Linked DNA regions of Homo sapiens: all the other regions are linked to region 3. Evidence: fine-mapped expression QTL. A gene starts in region 3. Each other region holds a variant in brackets. All regions are shown on one strand. Distances are between the middles of the regions.

Region 1 (5,922 bases), 57 kb before region 3:
CTGGAAGTACATACACCAAGGCATTAACCATATTTATCTCCGAGAAGGTAAACAAACACATTTAAAATTTTTGTTCTGTTAGGCGTGGGGGCTCACACCAGTAATCTCAGCACTTTGAAGAGGCCAAAGCAGGAAGATCTCTTGAGCCCAGGAGTTTCAGAACAGCCTGGGCAACATAGGGAAACCCCCCCACCTTACAAATACTTTTTTTTTAATTAGCTGGCTGTGGTGGTGTATGCCTATGGTCCCAGCTACTGGGGCGACTAGGGTGGCAGGATCACTTGAACCCAGGAGGTTGAGGCTGCAGTGAGCAGTGTTTGCACGGTGGAAGATGATTGGATCATGGGGAAAGTTTCCCCAGTGCTGTTCTCATGATTGTGAATGAATTCTCACAAGATCTGATGGTTTTATAAAGCAATTTTCCCTGCTCTTGCTAGCTCTCTCTTTCCTGCCATCAAGTGAAGAAGGTCCTTGCTTCCCCTTCGCCTTCTGCCATGATTGTAGGTTTCTTGAGGCCTCCCCAGCCATGTGCAAATGTGAGTCGATTAAACCTCTTTTAAACCTCTTTTCTTTATAAATTACCCAGTCTTGGGCAGTTCTTTTTTTTTTTTTTTTTTTTTTTTTAGATGGCGTCTCACTCTGCCACCCAGGCTGGAGAGCAGTGGAGCAATCTCAGCTCACTGCAACCTCTGCCTCCCAGGTTCAAGCAATTCTCCTGCCTCAACCTCTCGAGTAGCTGGGATTACAAGTGCCTGCCACCACACCTGGCTAATTTTTGGTATTTTTATTAGAGATGGAGTTTCACTGTGTTGGCCAGGCTGGTCTTGAACTCCTGACCTCAGATGATCCACCTGCCTCGGTCTCCCAAAGTGCTGGGATTACAGGCATGAGCCACTGCATCTGGCCTTGTGCAGCTCTTTATAGCAGTGTGAGAATGGGCAAATATAGGAAATCGGTACTGCAGAGAGTGGGGTACTGCGATACAGGTACCAAAAAATGTGGAAGTGACTTTGAAACTGGGTAACAGGCAGAGGTTGGAACAGTTTGGAGGGCTCAGAAGACAGGAAAATGTGGGAAAGTTTGGAACTTCCTAGAGACTTGTCAAATGGTTTTGACCAAAATGCTGATAGCAGTGTAGACAATGAAGTCCAGGCTGAGATGGTCTCAGATGGAGATGCAGAACTTTTTGGAAACTGGAGCAAAGTTCACTCTTGCTACGCTTTAGCAGAGCAACTGGTGGCATTCTGCCCTTGCCCTAGAGATCTGTGGAACTTTGAAGTTGAGAGACATTATCTGAAATTGGAACTTATGTTTAAAAGGGAAGCAGAGCATAAAAGTTTGGAAAATGTGCAGCCTGACAATATGGTAAAAAAGAAAAATCCATTTTCTGGGGAGAAATTCAAACTGGCTAGAGAAATTTGCACAGGTAACAAGGTGCTGAATGTTAATTACCAAGACAATGGGGAAAATGTCTCCAGGGCATGTCAGAGACTTTCACAGCAGCCCCTCCCATCACAGACCCAGGGGCCTAGGAGGAAAAATGGTTTCCTGGGCCAAGTCCAGGGCTCCCCTGCTGTGTGCAGCCTTGGATTTGGTGCCCTGCATCCCAGCTGCTCCAGCTGTGTCTAAAAGGGACCAAGGTACAGCTCAGGCTGTTGCTTCAGAAGGTGCAAGCCCCAAGTCTTGGCAGCTTCCATGTGATGTTGGTTCTGCGGGTGCACAGAAGACAAGAAATGAGGTTTGGGAACCTCTGCCTAGATTTCAGAAGATGTATGGAAACACCTGGATGTGCAGGCAGAGGTGTGCTGCAGGGACAGAGCCCTCATGGAGAATCTCTGCTAGGGCAGTGCAGAAGGGAAATGTGGGGTTGGAGCCCCCACAGAGAATCCCTACTGGGGCACTGCCTAGTGGAGCTGTGAGAAGAGGGCCTACCATCCTCCAGACCCCAGAATGGTAGATACACTGACAGCTTGCACTGTGCACCTGGAAAAGCTGCAGATACTCAACACTAGCCATGAAAGCAGCTGGTATATGGAGGGCTGGGCAGAGGGGCTACAAAGCCACAGGGATGGAGCTGCCCAAGGCCATGGGAGCCTACCCTTTGCATCAGTGTGCCCTGAATGTAAGACATGGAGTCAAAGGAGATTGTTTTGGGGTTTTTAGATTTAATGACTGCCCCACTGAATTTTGGACTTGTATGGGACCTGTAGCCCCTTTGTTTTGGCCAATTTCTCCCATTTGGAATGGGAGCATTTACCCAATGCCTGTACCCCCACTGTGTCTTGGAAATAACTAACTTGCTTTTGATTTTACCAGCTCATAGGTAGAAGGGACTCACCTTGTCTCAGATGAAACTTTGGACTTGGACTTTTGGGTTTAATGCTGGAATGAATTAAGACTTTGACTACTGGGAAAGCATAATTGTGTTTTGAAATGTGAGGAGATGAGATCTGGGAGGGGCCAGGGATGGAATGATATGGTTTGCCTGTGTCCCCACCCAAATCTCATCTTGAATTGTAAACCTCATAATCCCTTGTCAAGGGAGAAACCAGGTGGGAGGATCATGGGGGAGGTTTCCGCCATGCTATTCTTATGATAATAAGTTCTCATGAGATCTGATGGTTTTATAAGGCAGTTTTTCCTGCTCTTACTAGCTCTCTCTTTCCTAATACCATGTGAAGAAGGTCTTTGCTTCCCCTTCACCTTCCACCATGATTGTAAGTTTTCTGAGGCCTTCCCAGGCATGCAGAACTGTGAGTCAATTAAACCTCTTTTCTTTATAAGTTACCCAGTCTTGGGCAGTTCTTCATAGCAGTGTGAGAACAAACTGACACTCCCCTTTTCCTTTTTATTTCTACTAAGTCAAAGTCAATGCTTGCATAAGCAATCAATTACAGTATTAGTTATGAGTAGTACTTTTGGGGGATTTTCCTCTTCACAAAACGGGTAAGCTGCCCTTGGGCATTTGAAAGTCTAAGACAGATGAGGAATAAACAGAGAGAGCATTAGAGAACTCCAGTATCTTTGCTTTCAGGGGAAAACAATTAGTGAT[C/T]GATAGAGTATGGTTCCACAAAGTTAAAACCCAGTGCATAAAGCTGACCTCAGAGAATCAGTCTACACCCGTGTAATCAAAACTGCAACCTACCCTCACTCCTGCTATTCTCACTCACATCCACTCATTCACATGCACATCACACACAGACTATCTCAGAACCTGCTACTAGAGGAAAATGAACATCCTGCCTCACGTTAGGACCATAAGCTCTGGCATCAGAATGAACTGGGCTCTGGCCCTAACTCTGCCACCACACCAACAAGGTACAGAACTCTCTAAACTTTGTTTCCTCATCTAGAAAGTGAAGAAAAAAATAGGTCTGTGATGGTTAATGTTAGGTGCCAGCTTGACTGGATTAAGGGGCACCCAGACAGCTGGTAAAGCATTATTTCTTTCTGCACAGATGTGTCTGTTAAAGTGATTCTGGAAGAGATTGGCATTTGAATCAGTGGACTGAATAAGGAAGATCCACCCTCACCCATTGTGGGCAGGCACCATCCAATTGGCTGAAGACCTGGATAGATAAAAAAGGCAGAGGAAAGGAGAATTTTCTGCCTCTCTCTCTCTCTCTCTCTCTCTCTGTCTCTCTCTCTCTTTCTCTCTCTCTCTCCATCTCCCTCAAAGCTAGGATGCCCTTCTTTCCTGCCTTGGATATTAGAACTGCAGGTTCCATGTGGCCTTCGGAGTCAGGGACTTGTGCCAGTGACTCTCCCCTACCCTACCTTCAACCTAGAACTGAAAGTTATATAATCAGCTTCCCTGTTTCTGAGGCTTTCAAATTTGGACTAAGCCACCCTACTGGCTTCCCTGGTTCTGAGGCCTTTGAACTTGAACTGAGCCACACTACCAGCTTCCTTGGTTCTCCAGCTTGGAGACAGTTTATGTTGGGATTTCTCTGCCTCCATAATCATGTTAGCCAATTCCCCTAATAAATCCCTTCTCATATATTCTCTATCCCTATTTATCTCTATCTCTATCTCTATGGATCTATCTTTAGCTCTATCCTATTGGTTCTTTCTCGCTGGAGAATCCTGACTAATACAAGGTCCCACCTCAGAGTGCTGAAGCTTATTTTAGGTAATGCATTAAAGCATCCAGCATAGTACTTGGCATGTTAATTACCAGTTCTCCTTAAATGATGGCCATTAGACATACTTACATAATTACTTCTGGATAAGAAAGTAAACTCAAGAGTCATACCAATGACTTTTATTTAAGATGATTTATGAGTTGATGTGTGAGAAGGGTTGGTGAAGCTATGTGGGTGGCTCTTTAAATACCTTCCATTATATTTTCAAATTTTTCTTTATTCTATTAAAATACCTTTTATTCTCTTTATTCCCATAAAAAGGCAACCAAGCAGATTATACTCTCAACTAAGATGCCAGCAGTAATTGGGGTATGATGCAAGTCATCTTGGAGCAGCTACATACCCTGCCCACTGCAGTCAGTCAGCATCTGCAGTTGCTTTTTATAGCTGTTTTTACCCCCAACCCCGCCCCCATCCACATCCTGAAATGGTGAATTGGGGCTCAAAGAAAAAAACCAAAACAGTAGCATCTGATGTCATGAGGCAGAAGCAGAGTATTATTCAGGCCCTTTTTCAAACAGGGGAGCCATGTGTGCTTCTCCATGCTCTTCTTTCCTAGAGCTCCTTTCTTCCTCTACTTTCTTTCGGGATTTTATCTCCATCCTCAGGCATTCTCTTTCATTTCTCTCCTTTCTGCTTTCAGGTCCCTGAAAGGGAAAGATCAGAAACAGGTAAAAATGCACAAGCAGCTGACAACACTCCACATTTCTCTTAATAATCAGACATGGAGAAAGCCCTGATGGTTTAGCAGACTTCCACCTCTTGGTTTCTAGAAATAAATTAGCATAAACCTAAGGATGTTGCTAAAGGTTTCGGTCACAAAGAAAAGAATAGAGGGGGTTGGACATCAGCAGATGGTCTGGGAAGGAAGTACAACCTGCACATGCCTATGACTCTTTGCCTCTGAACATACTGAGGGGTGTGATTTCATGGCACAATGAAATTAATAGTTCCCTGGTGCTTTTTGAAACGGAAAGTGGCAAATGAGATCACACATGGAATGATTCTTAGCTTTCTGTGTTCACTCCCTTAAATTACTTTAATAGTAGAGTTTGCACTAAATTTTAATGTGAGGACTGTGGGAAGAATGAACTGTTAAGGAATGACGCCCAACCAGATTAACACCCCCCGACATGTGTCCCCAGGATTCCACATTATTCACTGATTAATTGAACATAAACTGTTGTTGTAGGATCAGGAGATATAACACTAAATAGACCTACTTCCTAGATATTACACCTAGGTGGAGGGATACAGACAGTCATCAATAAACCTAAAAGGAAATGAAAAAATAATCAATAGTGATAAGTGCAATGATAACTGTAAACAGAGTGATAGGGACCTACTGGAGGGTGGGGGGGTTGCTTCTTTAGTTATATGGCCAGAGGGTGCCTTTCAAAGGAATTATCAAAACAATGGCATGGATAAATGTGGCCACCGTATCTATTTATCCTTCTGTTTTAAAAAATAAACAAGCAAAATCATTACTCCTCTCCTGTTTGAACTAGAAATGTTGGGAAACCCCTGAGTGCTTATCAGGTGAAGTTAAGCAGTGGTGAGTGGTGGTCACATGAGCAAGGTCATGCTTGCTCAGCCGTGTTAGTTGAGAGTTATTGAGGCATCTGTTTAACACAGTGGTGTCAGCCGCTCTACAATGTTAACGCAGTCATGAAGGTCTCTTATCAAAATGGTATAAGAAAGAGAAAATAGAGTGATGATTAAAGACTATCTGAGAAATGCTTGTAAATAATGCCCTGAAATACATTTTATCACATCT
Region 2 (5,922 bases), 45 kb before region 3:
AAGATGTACTTCCTTCAGCATCTGTAATACCTCTATGTATTTATGTGTTGTGTACACAGTGTTTCACTACTGAAAATATATAAAAGAGCTCTAACTAATTGGTTTAAAGAAAAATAAAAGCACTTGAATCAAATACTTTATCAGGAAAAAAGAAAAGACTAGTCAAATGCGTTTTCAACTTTATGTAACTTAAGTAAAACCCTTAATAAGTAAGCTAACTTTAAAATTATTGGTAAAATAATATTATAAATGTTTTAAGAACTGCCAGCATACATATTTGTTTGCATTTATTAATCAAGTAATTTTATGCTTATCCCTGCCAAATACTATAAGGTGACAAAATTTGACATAGGGGTTACAGAACTATAAACCCAGCCAAAAACAGAATGATCTTTACTCATGTAATATTTAATAAATATGACATTGATATTGGTTTAATAAAAATAGCTACATTTTGAATTTAGTAAGATTAGCATAACTTCTAATCTTGTGGTTTTAGGCAGTCTAGTCCACAGGCAGTAAGGTTTGTTTTGGCAAAGGACTGTTATTGTCTTTGTTTCAAAGTAAATTATAAACTAAGTTTCTCCCAAAGTTAGTTCAGCCTATGCCCAGGAATAAACAAGAACAGCTTAAAAGGAGGTTAAAAGCAAGATGGAGTCAGTGAAGTCTAATCTTTTTCACTGTCTCAGTTATAATCTTACAATGGTGGTTCCATAACGTTAAATGATGACTATCACAGTTTTCATAAATTAGGTAAACAATTAAAATAAAATAATTAGGTAAAAGTAATGGGATAAATACTTGTAGACAAACTCATCATAATTTAGAATCTGAAGTTAATCTAAAGAATAGAGATTTCATTATTTGGGTATTTTCCAGTTAAAAATATATTTGTAGGAAAACATTCTTTCTTAAAGAAAAGGTGTGTCATTTTAAAAAAGAAGAACAATTTTTGTCTAATTCAAAGCTTATTTAAAGCTCATATATAAAACAAGGTAACAGGAACCAGGAAACAAGAGCGATGTAAAAAAAAGTTATCAAAATAAAGAGGGAATTTTCTTGTAAGAAAGCTTAAAGAGAAATAATTTCACAGGAGAAAGACTCTTGTATGGTAAATTTAGTCCTAGAGTAAAATGACTGGTTGTTTAAGGAAGAGGGATGCTCAGGACAAACCAGAAAATCTAAGCATGTTGTGAAAGGTCTGTGTAAGTCATAATAAAGGGATTTTTTTTTTAATTCTTTTTTTTTAAATTATACTTTAAGTTCTAGGGTACATGTGCACAACATGCAGGTTTGATACATAGGTATACATGTGTCAGGTTGGTTTGCTGCACCCATCAACTCACCATTTACATTAGGTATTTCTCCTAATGCTATCCCTCCCCCAGCCTCCCACCCTCCAACAGGCCCCAGTATGTGATGTTCCCCCCACTGTGTCCAAGTGATCTCATTGTTCAATTCCCACCTATGAGTGAGAACATGCGGTGTTTGGTTTTCTGTCCTTGTGATAGTTTGCTGAGAATGATGATTTCCAACTTCATCCATGTCCCTGCAAAGGACATAAACTCATCCTTTTTTATGGCTGCATAGTATTCCATTGTGTATATGTGCCACATTTTCTTAATCCAGTCTATCGCTGATGGACATTTGGGTTGGTTCCAAGTCTTTGCTACTGTGAATAGTGCCATAATAAATATATGTGTACATGTGTCTTTATAGTAGCAGGATTTATAATCCCTCAGGTATATACCCAGTAATGGGATCGCTGGGTCAAATGGTATTTCTAGTTCTAGATCCTTGAGGAATTGCCGCCCTGTCTTCCACAATGGTTGAACTAATTTACACTCCCACCAACAGTGTAAAAGCATTCCTATCTCCACATCCTTTCCAGCACCTGTTGTTTCCTGACTTTTTAATGATTGCCGTTCTAACTGGTGTGAGATGGTATCTCATTGTGGTTTTGATTTGCATTTCTCTGATGACCAGTGATGATGAGCATTTTTTCATGTGTCTGTTGGTTGCATATATGTCTTCTTTAGAGAAGTGTCTGCTCATATCCTTTGCCCACTTTTTGATGGGGTTGTTGGATTTTTCCTTGTAAATTTGTTTAAGTTCCTTGTAGATTCTGGGTATTAGCCCTTTGTCAGATGGGTAGATTACAAAAATTTTCTCCCATTCTGTAGGTTGCCTCTTCACTCTGATGGTAGTTTCTTTTGCTGTGCAGAAGCTCTTTAGTTTAATTAGATCCCATTTGTCTATTTTGGCTTTTGTTGCCATTGCTTTTGGTGTTTTAGTTATGAAGTCCTTGCCCATAACTATGTCCTGAATGGTATTGCCTAGGTTTTCTTCTAGGGTTTTTATGGTTTTAGGTCTAATATTTAAGTCTTTAATCCATCTTGAATTAATTTTTGTATAAGGTGTCAGGAAGGGATCCAGTTTCAGCTTTCTACATATGGCTAGCCAGTTTTCCCAGCACCATTTCTTAAATAGGGAATCCTTTCTCCATTTCTTGTTTTTGTCAGATTTGTCAAAGATCAGATGGTTGTAGATGTGTGGTGTTATTTCGGAGGCCTCTGTTCTGTTCCATTGGTCTATATATCTGTTTTGGTACAAGTACCATGCTGTTTTGGTTACTATGGCCTTGTAGTATAGTTTGAAGTCAGGTAGTGTGATGCCTCCAGCTTTGTTCTTTTTGCTTAGGATTGTCTTGGCAATGCAGGCTCTTTTTTGGTTCCATATGAACTTTAAAGCAGTTTTTTCCAATTCTGTGAAGAAAGTCTTTGGTAGCCTGATGGGGATGGCATTGAATCTATAAACTACTTTGAGCAGTATGGCCATTTTTACGATATTGATTCTTCCTATCCATAAGCATGGAATATTCTTCCATTTGTTTGTGTCCTCTTTTATTTCATTGAGCAGTGGTTTGTAGTTTTCCTTGAAGAGGTCCTTCACATCCCTTGTAAGTTGGATTCCTAGGTATTTTATTCTCTTTATAGCAATTGTGAATGGTAGTTCACTCATGATTTGTCTCTCTGTTTGTCTGTTAATGGCATATGGGAATCTTCATGATTTTTGCACATAGATTTTGTATACTGAGACTTTGCTGAAGTTGCTTATCAGCTTAAGGAGATTTTGGGCTGAGACGATGGGGTTTTCTAAATATATTTTTTTAAAAACCAAAAACTTTGATATGATCCAGTTGTCATAATACTATTAGGTTTTGGTTTGCTAAAATAAACTGAGATTAAAAATGTTTTTTAATTAAGGTTCTTACATCGTGTATCTCTCTGTATACACTTTTAAATACTTGTGACATTGAGTTACAGGCTTTGACTCCTGGGTCTAAAAAGGAAACCAAGTCCTGATAAATGTTAAACACTGACAGCAATTAAAGCCCTATCTTCAGGCCCTGTAGAAAATGCCAATCAAAA[T/C]AAACTGCATTCCTGAGACCCAGGGCCAGAAATTAAAGCTATTCAACTCCTCAAGGCCTGGGGACTGTCAAGGAAGAGGTGGGTGTGTGAAATTGTAAGGGCTAATTTTGAGAGATAAAATAAGTTCAGTTTCTCTATACTTTTTTTGAGAGAGAGTCTCGCCCTGTCTACCAGGCTGGAGTGCAGTGGTGCAAGCTCAGCTCACTGCAACCTCTGCCTCTGGGTTCAAGCAATTCTCCTGCCTCAGTTTCCCAAGTAGCTGAGATGACTGGTGCCCACCACCATGCCTGCCTCATTTTTGTGTTTTAGTAGAGATGGGGTTTCACCATGTTGGTCAGACTGGTCTCAAACTCCTGACCTCAAATGATCTGCCCACCTCAGCCTCCCAAAGTGCTGGGATTACAGGCATGAGCCACTGCACCTAGCCAGTTCCCCTATAAATTAATCATCAATGTCAAAGGCACACTGATGCAAGACCAGCACATGGGCCCCTATGTCAAATCAACATGGTTTTCTTGAAGCATTAGCTGACGCCTTAATAAAGGTTATAAAGGTTTTCAAAGGCTTATGGAAGGTATATCTTACAGACAAGATTAAAATTTTATAGATTGTTTATAAAATTTTGAAAAACAAATTTAATTGGCTTCATGCAGTTTTTATTAGGGCTTACTGTTTGGAAAATTAAGTCTCCTATCTCAAAGAATGAAGATTTCACCGTTTTAAAAAAATCCTTTGAGTTATTACTTTGGTTAAATGAAATGACTTATTTCACAATGACCTGTGATCCTATTTTGTGATATCAAGTGTTTTAAACCTTGGATATTTGACAAATTTTCCAAATCAAATAATAAATTATGTCTTTTCCTGACCTAATTAGTCCTTTAAGACATGAGGTTCCCTAAAGTCCAAAAATGACATAATTGGCTTAGTTGGTATTACAATTATACAGGAAGCATTATCAAATATAAAATGGTGTTTGGTTTTCTTAGGGCTGTATTTCTATAAATATGTTATTGGTATGTGTTCCAGAAGTATGGGAAACTCCTATAATTCTGATATGACTTAATGGACATTATAAGTAATAATTATAATTGTTAGGTTAAATTATTGTGTGCCACATAAGTAACAATTTTCCTTGTCAATTGTGTCTTTATGACAACTTTTTTGTCATCCATGGACAATTATTGTCTTGTGTTGATCCTCTTTAGGAGGTGGTTTTATAATCAGCTATAAAACTCTTAACAGGTGCTCTTGAATGAGGTTTCTGATAACTTTGGAGACAGTGACATCAGAATAGAAGAAAAACTTCAAGACTCATGGAGAGCTGAAATGTTTATGACTATCAAGCAGAGCAGGAATTAACTCATCAACTAAACTAATTATAGAAGTCTGAAGTAATCTTTTTAACTTTTTGCCTAAAACACTGCTGAGCCTTTGTTTTGTTTTTCAGAGTCAAGAAAAGTTTTAAGCTATTTACAATAGGTTTTAACAACTGAGTAAAGTATACTCCTATGAACAAAATTTGGAGCATATTTGTTTTCTCTCTACCTGATTTCTCCAGAATTTGGAAACTGTTTGGGAGTATTCTTAACTTATGGCAATACAGTTATTTGCTTAAGTGCAATAAGAATCTGTTTTCATTTACAACAGGACACAATTGGAGAAACTTCTTATTTTACCAAGGCTTTGACTGGAATGGTGTGCTTTCCTTTAAGGAATCAAAGTTGACTTACAAAGCCACTAAAATCCCTGGGGAAAACTGGCCGCAAACTTGTCTACGCAATTCCTGTATGGGGTTCCTGACCTGTGGTAAGTAAAGAATGTAACGTTCTTATAGGCCTAAGAGCCTCAGGTTTTATCTTAGAACCTCAAGAGGAGAGGATCGCCCAACTCAGCTCAGCTTTTAAAAAAGTCTTATCTGAGATTCCTTCTATGGAACAAAGTTCCATCAAAGCCAATTTAAAAGCCTATGTAAAAAATAATTATTCTTGTTGAACTGTATACAAATGATTAGGCCAAGTATAATAAAGCACAGCAGTCCTACCATGATTTGTCTTTGGTAAAAATGGGAAACTGGAGAGAGAAAAATTGTTTCAAAAACTATAGCACACCTGTTGTTAGATTCTAGTCTTGCCTAATGTTTTTCAATTTTTATTATTTTCTACATTTTGGACCGAATTCTGTATTTTCTTGGCTCCAAGTCTTCAAAGCATTGTTTTCCATTTTTTCCTTCTTTTTTTCCCCATGTTTTTCTCATTTGGAGTCATCAAAATCCAGGCTGTGCTTTCATAAAGCCCTGCAAACTGAAGCTAGACAACTTAAACTTCAGAAGAAAATAACAGCAACCTATTTACATACATAAGCCACTAATACCTGCCTACTGATGTATGGACTTCAGAGTAATGTGACCAATATTGATTTTCCAGAATTGTTCTTTTGTTTGTTGTTGTTTTTCTTCCTTCCTCCTCCTATTTTCTCTTCATAGGACATG
Region 3 (5,922 bases):
AAGGTTTGGACACCAGTCAACCAGCTATTTACCAACTCTAGCAATCTGAAAGGCCTTTCATGTAGCAATGACAATTGAAGGGACAGAATTACATCATTTTAAAACAATAAGGAGCCTTAAAAATAATCTAATCCACCCCTCCTCACATTATAAAGAAAGCAGAGTTGCCCATGGTCACACACACAACTCAGTGGTATTAAAATTTAGAATAAGAATTCAGGTCAGCTGGGCATGGTGGCTTATGCCTGTATTCCCAGCACTTTGGGAGGCCGAGGCAGGTAGATCACCTGAGGTCAGGAGTTCAAGACCAGCTTGGCCAATATACAAAAAATTAGCCTGGCATGGTAGCAGCCGCCTATAATCCCAGCTACTGGGACGCTGAGGGAGGAGAATTGCTTGAAGCCTGCAGGCAGAGGCTGCAGTGAGCCAAGATGGCGCCATTGCACTCCAGCCTGGGCAACAAGAGCGAAACTCCATCTCAAAAAAAAAAAAAACTCAGGTCTTCCACAACCTAGTCCATTAGACTATCTCATTTAACTGCCTCCTAAGATACAGATCAAAGGTGAAGAAAGCTTCTTCAGTTGAGTTCCACTAATCTACCAAGAAAAAGATAATGTCTATGTTCACATATACAGAACTTTAATTTTTTAGAAATGAAAGGCAGTATTTTACTTCTTTACTTTAAAATTTAGAAAAACTGAGAACTAATCATCAAATATCTATTGCTTTGTAACAAACATCAAAAGAACTTTAAATATTCTCTAATTAAATCTTTACTATAGCCTGAGAGGTAGATGTTTTCACCATTTCACAGATTAGAAAAACATGCATCAGATCAGTAAGGTCCCAAAGCCAGTAAGCGACACTCTATTTGGCTCTACAGTACCATCAATTAGGAAATGGAGGAGAAAATGAGAGAATAGCATAGGCTAGAGAATGGAAATGAGATGTTTATCAAAGTATAAAAGTAACCAGAACAGATTCGTTTACTAATGCCAACCTTAAAAATAAAGCCAAACAAAATCAGGCCTTTAGATAAATATTAATCCAAAAAATGTTTCAAGAAAATAACACCGATTCCCTTTGGAGAGGGGAACTGTGCAGCTGAGGACAGGGACTGAAGGAAGACTTTTCACAGTAAACTCTGTAACTTTTGGAGTTTAACCGTAACAGTGTATTGCTTACTCCAATAAATAAGAAAAAGGTTTAAAAAAAAAACTTCAAATATGTTTTAGTTCCTATCAAGTTTGTAATTGTTAGCACTCTACAATCCTCCAAGAGGCCACAGCAAAACTGAAATTTCAGAAAAAAAAAAAAATCCTAACTTGTGTTCTGAAAAAGGCAAGGCAGAGCTTATATTAAGGGGCAGAAAATTTGCCTTTGGGGATTGGGGGATCAGGAGGGGAGAAAAGCCTATTGCCTGCAACGATCAACTCAATTCCACTGCTATTTTTAGCCCATTTTTTTAGTCTGTTGCTAAGAAACCCTATTGCCTGAAGGCAATTTACTAATAGGAACTTACATGAAGCAGGAGAAACCGGTGATCCTGAAATTCTTTCCAATTAGGCCATTCTATTTTAATCAGTCCATTCTGGTGCCACTTGATAAAATATCTCCTTTCAATCTTTATGTAGCTCTACTGTGATGTTGTTGCACTTAACAGCAAAACAATCATTTATGAAATCTTAATGTAAGGCTTCTGCAAACCAGTATACCAGAAATGGAGAACCATAGTTCTGGACTCTGATTTTTCTATTAATAGTTGTCTTCATGAAAATACCGTGTATTCCAAACAATACCTTGCAAGGTAATTTTATATTTTAAGAGATCTGGTGCAGAGCATCGGAAAAAGAGTTGATAAAGCTATTATAGATAAAAAGCTGTGAACTGAAATTACGATTTGGGAATGAGACGAGAAGAGGGCTGAGACTGCTACTGCAAAACAACCCGGGGGGCGTGCGGATCAGAGCGAGATGTGGGCTGACGCAGAAATCAGCTCAAGATACAAATACGCCAAGAAAGGCTCGAAGCCGGCGGGAACCCTGACGCTTCGCATTTCTACCAACTCAGTTTAAGAAACCCCTAACAACGCAGATGTCATCGCTTCGTTAATTGGTGCCGACGATGAGCCACAGCGACCACGCTCAAACCGTTTCGACTGCAGCCAACCTAGATGTGCCATTTCCACCTAGTCTTCTGCCATCGCTATCTCCCCTATAACCTCAAATTCGTCCAAACTAAAATCTCGCTATGTTAGTGATAAGAAGTTCAGTGATGCAGCAGCCTTCTTCAGCGGTGAGCTCTTTCCTCACACATCTTTAAAAGTCCTTCTAATCCGTTGGTTTCTCGGGCACGCGGGCAGAAAACCGTGCTAACGGCCACAGAGGTTCAAGAGGTGCCAACGTGGCTATAACTGGAAAACTGGATCCGAAATCGACCAGTAAACTGGGTAGCTCGGTCTACGCCCCGCCCACCACCCTTGCTAGCCAATAGCCTTCACAACTCTTCTGCCACTCCCGCCCATTCCAGTGCTGTGCCGCTGCTTTTTCTTCCACTCGGATCTCTTGAGCGCCCTTAGCCCGCTGTATACGCGCCCCTCCTCGGCTTCAGTAGGCAAGAGGGCCATCTGCCCTTCTTTCCTGAAGGTAGAGGGGACAACACCAGCTACGACGGGGACTCCAGAAGTCCATCTCCCGAACAGCAGCGGGGCGAAAAGAAAGAAAAAGGGTTTCCGAAGACTCCTACTCACACCCACGCTTTCCCTTAACCCGGAAGTGATTTCCGCCCCTCCTCTCCCTCTTCGGTTGATACTGGAGGAGAAGGACGGCCAGGTCTGGCCCGGCATGCCCTGGGCTTCCGGTGACCTCTGGCCCTTTTCTGTCGTCCGCTCTCTCTGCCTAGCGTGCTCGCTCGCTCATTGCTTTCCTTCCCTCCCTCGGTCTTCCTTCGCACGCTGTTTGGTGATTGTGGCGCTCGCGACAGACAGGGAGGCGGTGGCAGAGGACACTTGTCATGGCCGCCTCTAAACCTGTGGAGGCAGCGGTGGTCGCAGCCGCTGTACCGAGCTCCGGGAGTGGGGTGGGCGGCGGCGGGACTGCGGGCCCGGGCACGGGGGGGCTGCCGCGATGGCAGCTGGCTCTGGCGGTCGGGGCACCCCTGCTGCTGGGCGCGGGTGCCATATACCTGTGGAGTCGGCAGCAACGGCGCCGGGAGGCCAGAGGCCGGGGCGACGCCAGCGGCCTGAAGCGCAACAGCGAACGGAAGACCCCGGAGGGCAGGGCCAGTCCGGCCCCGGGCAGCGGACACCCTGAAGGTCCCGGTGCTCACTTGGACATGGTGAGAAGCAGCCCCAGGCCGTAGAGGAGGAAACTGGCTCGTGCAGCTTTTCCTTGGCGGGTTGTGTCAGTGAGGGGGCTTCCCATCAGACGGAAGCTGCCAAGCGGCAGCACAACACTTGGGTTTAGGGAGACTCATTTCTGGCTGCCAGTGGAGGGCATAGAGTAGCTCGATGACAGGTTACTGGCATTCTTTGACAGTTTGCTTTTGGTTTCAGAAAAATCCTTTGCTTTTCTTCTCAGTGACACAGCATTTATCCCTAGTGTTGTAGATGGGAGTGGGGCATTTGCAAATGTGATGATTGTATTTAATAAGTGAAGGAAGCTAAATTCGATTAACAATTGGTACATCGTGATACGAACTGTTTCTGTGATTTCCAAAGCCTACAACCTAATCGCTAAGAGCCTTTTAATAATGAGCCACTCCCCCTTTTGGAGTGTGTTTTTGCTGGGGGTAAGTGGGCAACTACAGTGACGGTTAGTTGACAAAAGCAAAACAAAAACAAAAACGATTAGATGGCTTTCTACATAGAAAAAGAAAGACTACACAGGTTCTAAAGAGTGAAATGGTGTTCAGTGGCATTTGTTTTACAGCCTCTGAACTGTAAGCAGAACTGTCAAGCTCCCAAGGCTCGTCCTCTCTCAGCAACCCCGAAGCCCCCTTGGCTGCAAGCACTCAGCGCCCGTAACCTCTCCTGCCATGCCCCAGCCCCAAGGTGTCCTTTTGCACTCCGGACCCCTTGGCCTTTGTCAGAAAACGCTCTGCACTGCACTGTCCCCTCTTGCTGCACAAGAGTAGCGGCCACAGCAATGCTCACCAGGCTTGGTTGCACACAGCCCCCTGCCCCAGGTCCAGGCCTACACACACATACAAAAAAAAAAAAAAAAAAAATGGGAGTGACTTCTTAAACTTTTTGATTGGAAGCATCTTAAATTCAGTTTTTCCATTTCACCTGGAAATGTACATGACCAAGCCTAATATGCATGATACAGTTTCTCTGATGTGAGGCCAAGCATTGGATTATTTAGTGAACTGCTTTGTATGGTTTTGGTGAACTGACTGTTAAATCCTTTTGGTATCTGACAGCTGTGCAGAGAATTAGTCTGGCTGCATTTGACAATACTGGGATTGGGTGTGGTGGATTTTCTCTGGGTCTGGAGTTGTTCAATGGTAGTACCAGAGTAAGTCGAGGTCAGAGAAACGTTTGGTCAAATATCTCCCAGTTTTATACATAAGTATATACAGTTGGTCAAGTAACTTCTAATTGTATCCAAGTGTATACACTTAAATATGTATGCAAGTCATTTCCATATTATACTATTCAGGTTGAATTTTTTTTTTTTTTTTGAGATGGAGTCTCACTTTGTTGCCCAGGCTGGAGTGCAGTGGTGCGATCTCAGCTCACCACCACCTCCGCCTCCTGGGTTCAAGCAGTTCTGCCTCAGCCTCCGGAATAGCTGGGACTACAGGCGCGCGCCACCATGCCCCGCTAATTTTTGTATTTTTAGTAGAGACGGGGTTTCACTGTGTTGGCCAGGCTGGTCTTGAACTCCTGACCTCAGGTGATCTGCCCATCTTGGCCTCCCAAAGTGCTGGGATTACAGGCGTGAGCCACCGCGCCCGGGCGAAGATATTTTTACTAGGATGTCAAATTAGCTTTAAAGGAAGTTTTGGTGTAGGAATGAACAAACTAGTATCTGCAGTGTGTGAGGCATTGTGCTAGGCCATGAGAAAGCCATATGATCTTTCCTATGGGAGAGTGAAGCATTACCTATTTTCTAAAAGGTTTATGACTGGATAGTAGAAGAACTTATGGACTGTGTTAGAACTAGGATTTGTAAGCTTTATAGTGGGCTCTCCAGCATTGTCACTTTGGGAAAGTCATTTTGTCTCCTTGACCTTAGCGTCATCCCTGTAGAATAAGAGGATTAAAATATTAGATCTCTTCTGTTTCTTTCAGTACTAAAAATTGATGATTCTCATTATGATCATTTATAATAGCTCACTGCTGCTATTAAAAGTAGTTATCAAGAGGATTATTTGAATTAATTATCACTTGTCTTACATCAATTTTGGATGTCTGAAATTCTCCAGTCATTTTCTATTTCGTTTGTTAATTTAGTTTTAATCATGGAAGAATAGTAGGTAAAATAAAAGATCCAAAAAGTTCTCAGTTCTGTAAACATTAAAAATAAAGATAGTTTCTATACATGAAACTAAATTTTTTTTTTTTTTTTTTTTTGAGACAGCGTCTAACCCTGTCACCCAGGCTGGAGTGCAGTGGCACGATCTTGGCTCACTGCAACCTCTGCCTCCTGAGTTCAAGCAGTTCTCCTGCCTCAGCCTCCTGAGTAGCTGGGATTACAGGCATGCGCCACCATGCCTGGCTAATTTTTGTATTTTTAGTAGAGACAAGGTTTTGCCTGGTTGGCCAGGCTGGTCTCAAACCCCTGACCTCAGGTGATCCACCCACCTCGGCCTCCCAAAGTGCTAGGAATTACAGGCACGAGCCACCTCACCGGCTGAAACTAGATTTTAACATTTCATTGTGGTTTCAGCCACCCCACCTCATCCCAGGGGATCTGT
Region 4 (5,922 bases), 35 kb before region 3:
CTGGGTGATAATGATGTGTCAGCATGGGTTCATCAATTGAAACAAATATACCGCTCTAGTCAGGAAGGTTAATCATGGGAGAGGTATGCATATCTGGGAGTATGGGGGCTATGGAAAATCTCTGTACCTTCTGCTCAATATTGCTTTGAACATAAAACAGATCCAAAAAAAGAAAGTTGTTTTTCTTTAAGTGACAATAAACCTAAAAGGAAAGTTGGGGAGGGGGAAATTGGTTATGTAATATATTCACCTCAAGAGCTTAACTACTCGATGTTCTTTATTCTGGCTGTAATTGCAATCACCCTTCAATTGTATCCCTCCCACCCTGTAGTCAATGGTTAACAGCAAGATGAGACATAATGAGAAAGATCCAGGTGCTGGCATAGTAAGACCCATATTGAGTCCTAGTGCACAGTATGTACCTGGCACTCTGGGGCCAGGTCCTTGATAGCTAACTTCAGAATAAAGTCAACAAGGGAGTGATTCTTCCCCTTTTACATATGAGGAAAATGAATCTTAGTGAGGCTAAGTCTTGCCTAAGACTTATGTGACTAGTGACTTTATTAGAGAGATAAAGTGACATGCCTAAGCATGTGACATCTGGTTCCTGGATTAGCAGTATTAAATCCTTTATCTTTAACAACAGCAACAACTTTATTCTATTTCCATGTGAAACTGCCTGTAAATGTGACTTTTAGCCATGTACCAATTTAAACAGAATTCTATTATAAAGTTAGTAATAATAATCTATAGGTCTTTAGGAATTCATCTGAAAGAATTTTATATGAAGAGTATTTTATAACATAGTCTAATGCTATCATCAGAGCCAAGAGGACTACAAATGAGTGGACTAGCTATACTTGGAAACACTATCAGGGAAAACATTCAAATATTCAACTGGTAAAATGATAGTTCTTTGAGAAATAATAAAGATAAGCTTAGTAACCATGCACTGTACATCCTTTTGGGAAGCCAAACAATGTTTTAAACTAATCAGTAAAATAACTTTTTTTAATTGGGGAAATGAACAGACCCTGCTTGGTCACACTATTACACACTAAATCAATGCAAAACTGTCACCAACACCATATCGTAAGTTATATAGTGGCCAAACAGAGGAGAGCTATAAGAAGAAACTCCTGTGAGCTTATAACGCTTCACACCTCAGGAACTTGGAATCTTTTCCTAAAGCAAAATTCAAGGACTTGTCTTACTCATCCCGAAGCTGCAGTAGCCAAACTAAGCCCATATAAACCATATGCCACTGAGATCATAACCCCAAATGACATTAAATTAGGTCATGTATAATAATGTTTTCCCTACTAGCTCTCCACTGTCTGGTGATGATGCTTGTTATGAAAATGTATTAGTCAGCTTGGGCTGCTATAACAAAATACCATAGGCTGAGTAGCTTAAGCAACAGAAATTTGTTTCTCACAGTTCTGGAGGCTAGGAAGTCCCAGATCTAGGTTCTGGCTAATTCAGTTCCTGGTGAGGGCTCTCTTCCTGGCTTGCAGATGGCTGCCTTCTCACTGCAACCTCACATGACTGCTTTTTTAAATGCATATGTGGGGATAGAGAGAGAAAGAAAAAGCTCTCTGATGTCTCTTCTTCTAAGGATATTAATCCCATTAGGCCAGGACCCCACCCTCATGAACTCATCTAACCCTAATTATCTCCCAAAGGCTCCATTTCCAAATACCATCACATTGGAGATTAGGGCTTCAGCATATGAATGGGGGAAGGGGAAGCACAAACATTCAGTCCATAACAGAACATATGTTACCTGCCAATGTTCAATATAAAATTACCAATTATCTTCCCATTGTAATATAAAAGAGAAACATAAAAGACAATGAAGTAAAGAGAAAATGAAAAACTCTAGAATTTTGTGCAGTAATTAGCTGAAGGCATCTGGAAAAAAATTTCTAAGTGTCAACACCTCTGACAGAGGAGGAGGAGGAGATGCAGAGGGAGGAGATGAGGGAGGGGAAAAGGAAAAGAGAGAGGGAAAGCATCTTATTAGGTATGTAAACGAAAAATAAAATCCTAAGCCCCTCATCAACTGAACAGACCCCCTCTTCACCAAGGGGATTCCATAAAAACCTTAAAAACTTAGTTCTGAGCCATGACGGGATGGGAGGTCAGATGCACCTCGTTGTACTCCCTGTCTTTTATGGTTTAGACACAACAATTGACCAGCATTAATGTTAAAATAGAGATCCTAACACTGACAGAACAAAGCCTTTGTGGCAATAAGATACCTAATTATAAACAGGACCTAAGGCCATGCCAGGCAAGGGTTAAGTTGTGCACCCCTACACTTAAAGAATAAACTATATTCTGACCGCCACAAGGTTTTTCTTTTCCTCTAACAGCTAAACAAGCACCGGCCCTGACATAAGCAGTATTAAAACAATTTGCAGCTCCATCAGATGCTGACTAGCTGATTCCCTTGTTCCATCAGCCATTACTACAGTTTTGATTGGACAAGAGATTGATTTCAATAACTTTCTCCTGACAAGACTACCAACCATGGACTGGTTCTAGCCAGTTTATGGGGGCTGCACACTCACTCACCTTCCTGTCCTAAGAAGATCTTTTCATGAATAGGGCCTAATTGTAATATGTTTAAATATTAAGTCTCCATCCCAAAGTGAACATGGGCCATACATGCTACATGTATGTTTGTTCAAAATTCCTGTGTCCACAGAACTGTGTCAGAACCACCTTCACGAATATTCACAGCTCCTCCTATAAACTGTTGCATGTGGAAGTTTAGCCAATCTGTTCAGCATAAAGCTCCTACCCCCTACCCCTCCTCCTTTGAAGTGCCTGTCTCCAGTCTTTCTGGAGGCTATGCTTCCCAGGCTGTGGGATGGCCAACTTGCAGGCTATAAGCTTTACAAGAAATAAAGTCCCCTCTTCTTTTCTAAATGTATACACTGCATGCATTTAGTGTAAAAAAAATTATTTTTTTAATAAATAAGTTAATAGGTACCAGGCACTGTTCAAAGCACTGTATATACATTACTTATTGAATATTCACAGCACCTTTATGAGGTCTGTACTATGATCACCAATCCCATTTACATGTGGGGAATTGGAGGCAAAGAGAGCTCAAGCAGCTTGCTCAGAGTTATGCTGCTAGTAAATGAAGAACACGGGAGGCCAGCTCCAGAGCACTTGCTCCTGACCACTCCTCTCCACTGCCTTTCTAGCAATTCCTCCACCTTAGCACCTAGAAGAA[G/C]AGAGAAAAGTCCACAGAACATTATGCTAAAAGCTCCCTATAGAGTTCTCACTGGTACCTGAATTTCTATCATTAGTTTCATTTCCTTGGATTAAGGAATTGCCTCCTATGAAAATTAAATTCAAATATCATCTGAAATACATCTGAAATACAAGAAGCCACTGCCAATCATGACACTTGATAGTATGTGTTCTCTCCCAGGTTTGTGAGAACTCCCCTAAGAGGGCCATGCCCCACCTGCCCTGTAGTGAGATACTATAAGAATGAGAGTGCAGCCATCTGAAAGTAGATCAACAATAAAAAACTAAAATTACAAATATCTTTCATCACTGTAAATTGAGAGCATGGAGGGAGAATATACAATGGAGAAAGGTAATTTAATTAAAAAAAAAAAAAAAAAGACAGCCGGGTGCAGTGGCTCACACCTGTAATCACAGCACTTTGGGAGGCCGAGGTGGGCAGATCACCTGAGGTCAGGAGTTCAAGACCAGCCAGGCTAACATGGTGAAATTCCATCTCTACTAAAAATACAAAAATTAGCCAGGCATGGTGGTGCACGCCTGTAGTCTTGACTACTCAGGAGGCTGAGGCAGGAGCATTCCTCGAACCCTGGAGGCAGAGGTTGTAGTGAGCCGAGATCTCACCACTGCACTCCAGCCTGGGCAATAGAATGAGACTTCAACTCAAAAAAAAAGAAAAAAGAAGAAAAAAAAAAGGAGGCATCACACTACCTGACTTCAAACTATACTACAAGGCTACAGTAACCAAAACAGCATGGTAACAGGTAACAGGTACCAAAACAGAGACATAGACCAGTGGAACAGAATAAAGAACTCAGAAATAAGACCACACTTATATAACCACCTGATCTTTGGCAAATCTGACAGAAACAAGCAATGGGGAAAGGATTCTCTATTTAATAAATGGTGCTGGGAAAATTGGCCAGCCATATGCAGAAAACTGAAACTGGACCCCTTCCTTACACCTTTTACAAAAATTAACTCAGGATGGATTAAAGACTTAAATGTAAATCCCAAAACCATAACAGCCCTAGAAGAAAACCTAGGCAGTAGCATTCAGGACATAGGCGTGGGCAAATACTTCATGATGAAAACACCAAAAGCAATTGCAACAGAAGCCAAAATTGACAAATAGGATCTAATTAAGCTAAAGAGCTTCTGCACAGCAAAAGAAACTATCATCAGAGTGAACAGACAACCTATGGAATGGGGGAAAATGTTTGCAATCTACTCATCTAACAAAAGTCTAATATCCAGAATCTACAATGAACTTAAACAAATTTACAAGAAACAAACAAACAAACCCATCAAAAAGTGGGCAAAGATATGAACAGACACTTCTCAAAAGAAGACATTTATGCGGCCAAAAAAACATATGAAAAAAGCTCAACATCACTGATCATTACAGAAATGCAAATCAAAACCACAATGAGATACCATCTCACACCAGTCAGAATGGCAATTATTAAAAAGCCAAGAAACAATAGATGCTGGCAAGGCTGTGGAGAAATAGGAACACTTTTACACTGTTGGGGGGAAAGTAAATTAGTTCAACCATTGTGGAAGACAGTGTGGTGATTCCTCAAGGATCTAGAATGAGAAATACCATTTGACCCAGCAATCCCATTACTGGGTATACACCCAAAGGAATATAAATCATTCTACTATAAAGACACATGCACATGTATGTTTATTGCAGCACTATTTATAGCAAAGACATAGGACCAACCCAAATGCCCATCACTGATAGAGTGGATAAAGAAAATGTGGTGCATATACACCATGGAATACCATGCAGCCATAAAAAAGAATGAGATCATGTCCTTTGCAGGGACATAGATGAAGCTGGAAGCCATCACCCTCAGCAAACTAACACAGGAACAGAAAACCAAACACCACATGTTCTCACCCACAAGTGGGAGTTGAACAATGAGAACACATGGACATAGGGAGGGGAACAACGCACACACTGGGGCCTATCAGAGGGTAGAGGGCAAGGAGAGGGAGAGCATTAGGACAAATACCTAATGCATGCAGGGCTTAAAACCTAGATGACGGGTTGGTAGGTGCAGCAAACCACCATGGCACATGTACACCCATGTAACAAACCTGCACGTTCTGCACATGTATTCCAGAACTTTAACTTTAAAGAAAAAAGAAAAAATCTTGGGTGTACATCGGTAGAGACTTATTCTGTATCCTTCAAAGTATATCATGTGGGCAAGTACATATGGTGACTTCCGTGGAGCATAGAAGAAGCACTGTGGAGGTCCGTCTGGAGTTACAAAAGCCCTGGGCCAATAAACTCGGTTTCTTCTCCCAAAGATCTTTCATTTAGCACAGTCTTCCCTTCCACGAGCCCCAGACTACATAGAACAATGTTAACAGAACCATGTTAAGCTGAAGGAGATGATGACTAGAAAGCTAAACAGACTAAAAGTATTAAAAATGCACTTCCATAGAATAAATAAATGACAGGGAAACTGTTTTATTTCAGTTTTGTATTCATATGATGTTGGAGAGAGAAGGCAAGTCAGTTTAATAATGAGAGACTTCATATTATGTTTTTTCACTAAGGACAGCAGAACAATAACATGGGATTTCTTTATTCACTTTAATTCAGCAAACATAGGTTCTAATGAGTCTGGGGAA

The links. PIP is the estimated chance that this variant, and not a neighbour inherited with it, causes the effect. A credible set is the group of variants that fine-mapping cannot tell apart.
Region 1: its variant is the best candidate, but not a certain one, in a credible set for the expression of LNP1 in visceral fat (GTEx, PIP 0.72).
Region 2: its variant is the best candidate, but not a certain one, in a credible set for the expression of LNP1 in thyroid (GTEx, PIP 0.86).
Region 4: its variant is the best candidate, but not a certain one, in a credible set for the expression of LNP1 in spinal cord (GTEx, PIP 0.59).

Annotation. Positions count from the first base shown.
Region 1 is chr3:100,454,647-100,460,568 of GRCh38, reverse strand. It overlaps LNP1 (leukemia NUP98 fusion partner 1), which reads right to left. Exons shown (of 4, transcript NM_001085451.2): 4 at 4,250-4,792. The coding sequence ends at 4,643. Among named protein-coding and RNA genes, the nearest start is that of TMEM45A, 35 kb to the left of the region's middle. The variant C/T (reference allele first, on the strand shown) is at 3,053.
Region 2 is chr3:100,442,927-100,448,848 of GRCh38, reverse strand. All of the region lies in intron 2 of LNP1 (leukemia NUP98 fusion partner 1), which reads right to left. Among named protein-coding and RNA genes, the nearest start is that of LNP1, 44 kb to the right of the region's middle. The variant T/C (reference allele first, on the strand shown) is at 3,432.
Region 3 is chr3:100,398,040-100,403,961 of GRCh38, reverse strand. It overlaps LNP1 (leukemia NUP98 fusion partner 1), which reads right to left and starts at 2,423. Exons shown (of 4, transcript NM_001085451.2): 1 at 1,523-2,423. It overlaps TOMM70 (translocase of outer mitochondrial membrane 70), which reads left to right and starts at 2,873. Exons shown (of 12, transcript NM_014820.5): 1 at 2,873-3,336. The coding sequence starts at 3,013. RefSeq lists silencers at 2,405-2,484, 3,095-3,174 and enhancers at 2,545-2,634, 2,645-2,694, 2,745-2,854, 3,536-4,455.
Region 4 is chr3:100,432,560-100,438,481 of GRCh38, reverse strand. All of the region lies in intron 2 of LNP1 (leukemia NUP98 fusion partner 1), which reads right to left. Among named protein-coding and RNA genes, the nearest start is that of LNP1, 34 kb to the right of the region's middle. The variant G/C (reference allele first, on the strand shown) is at 3,251.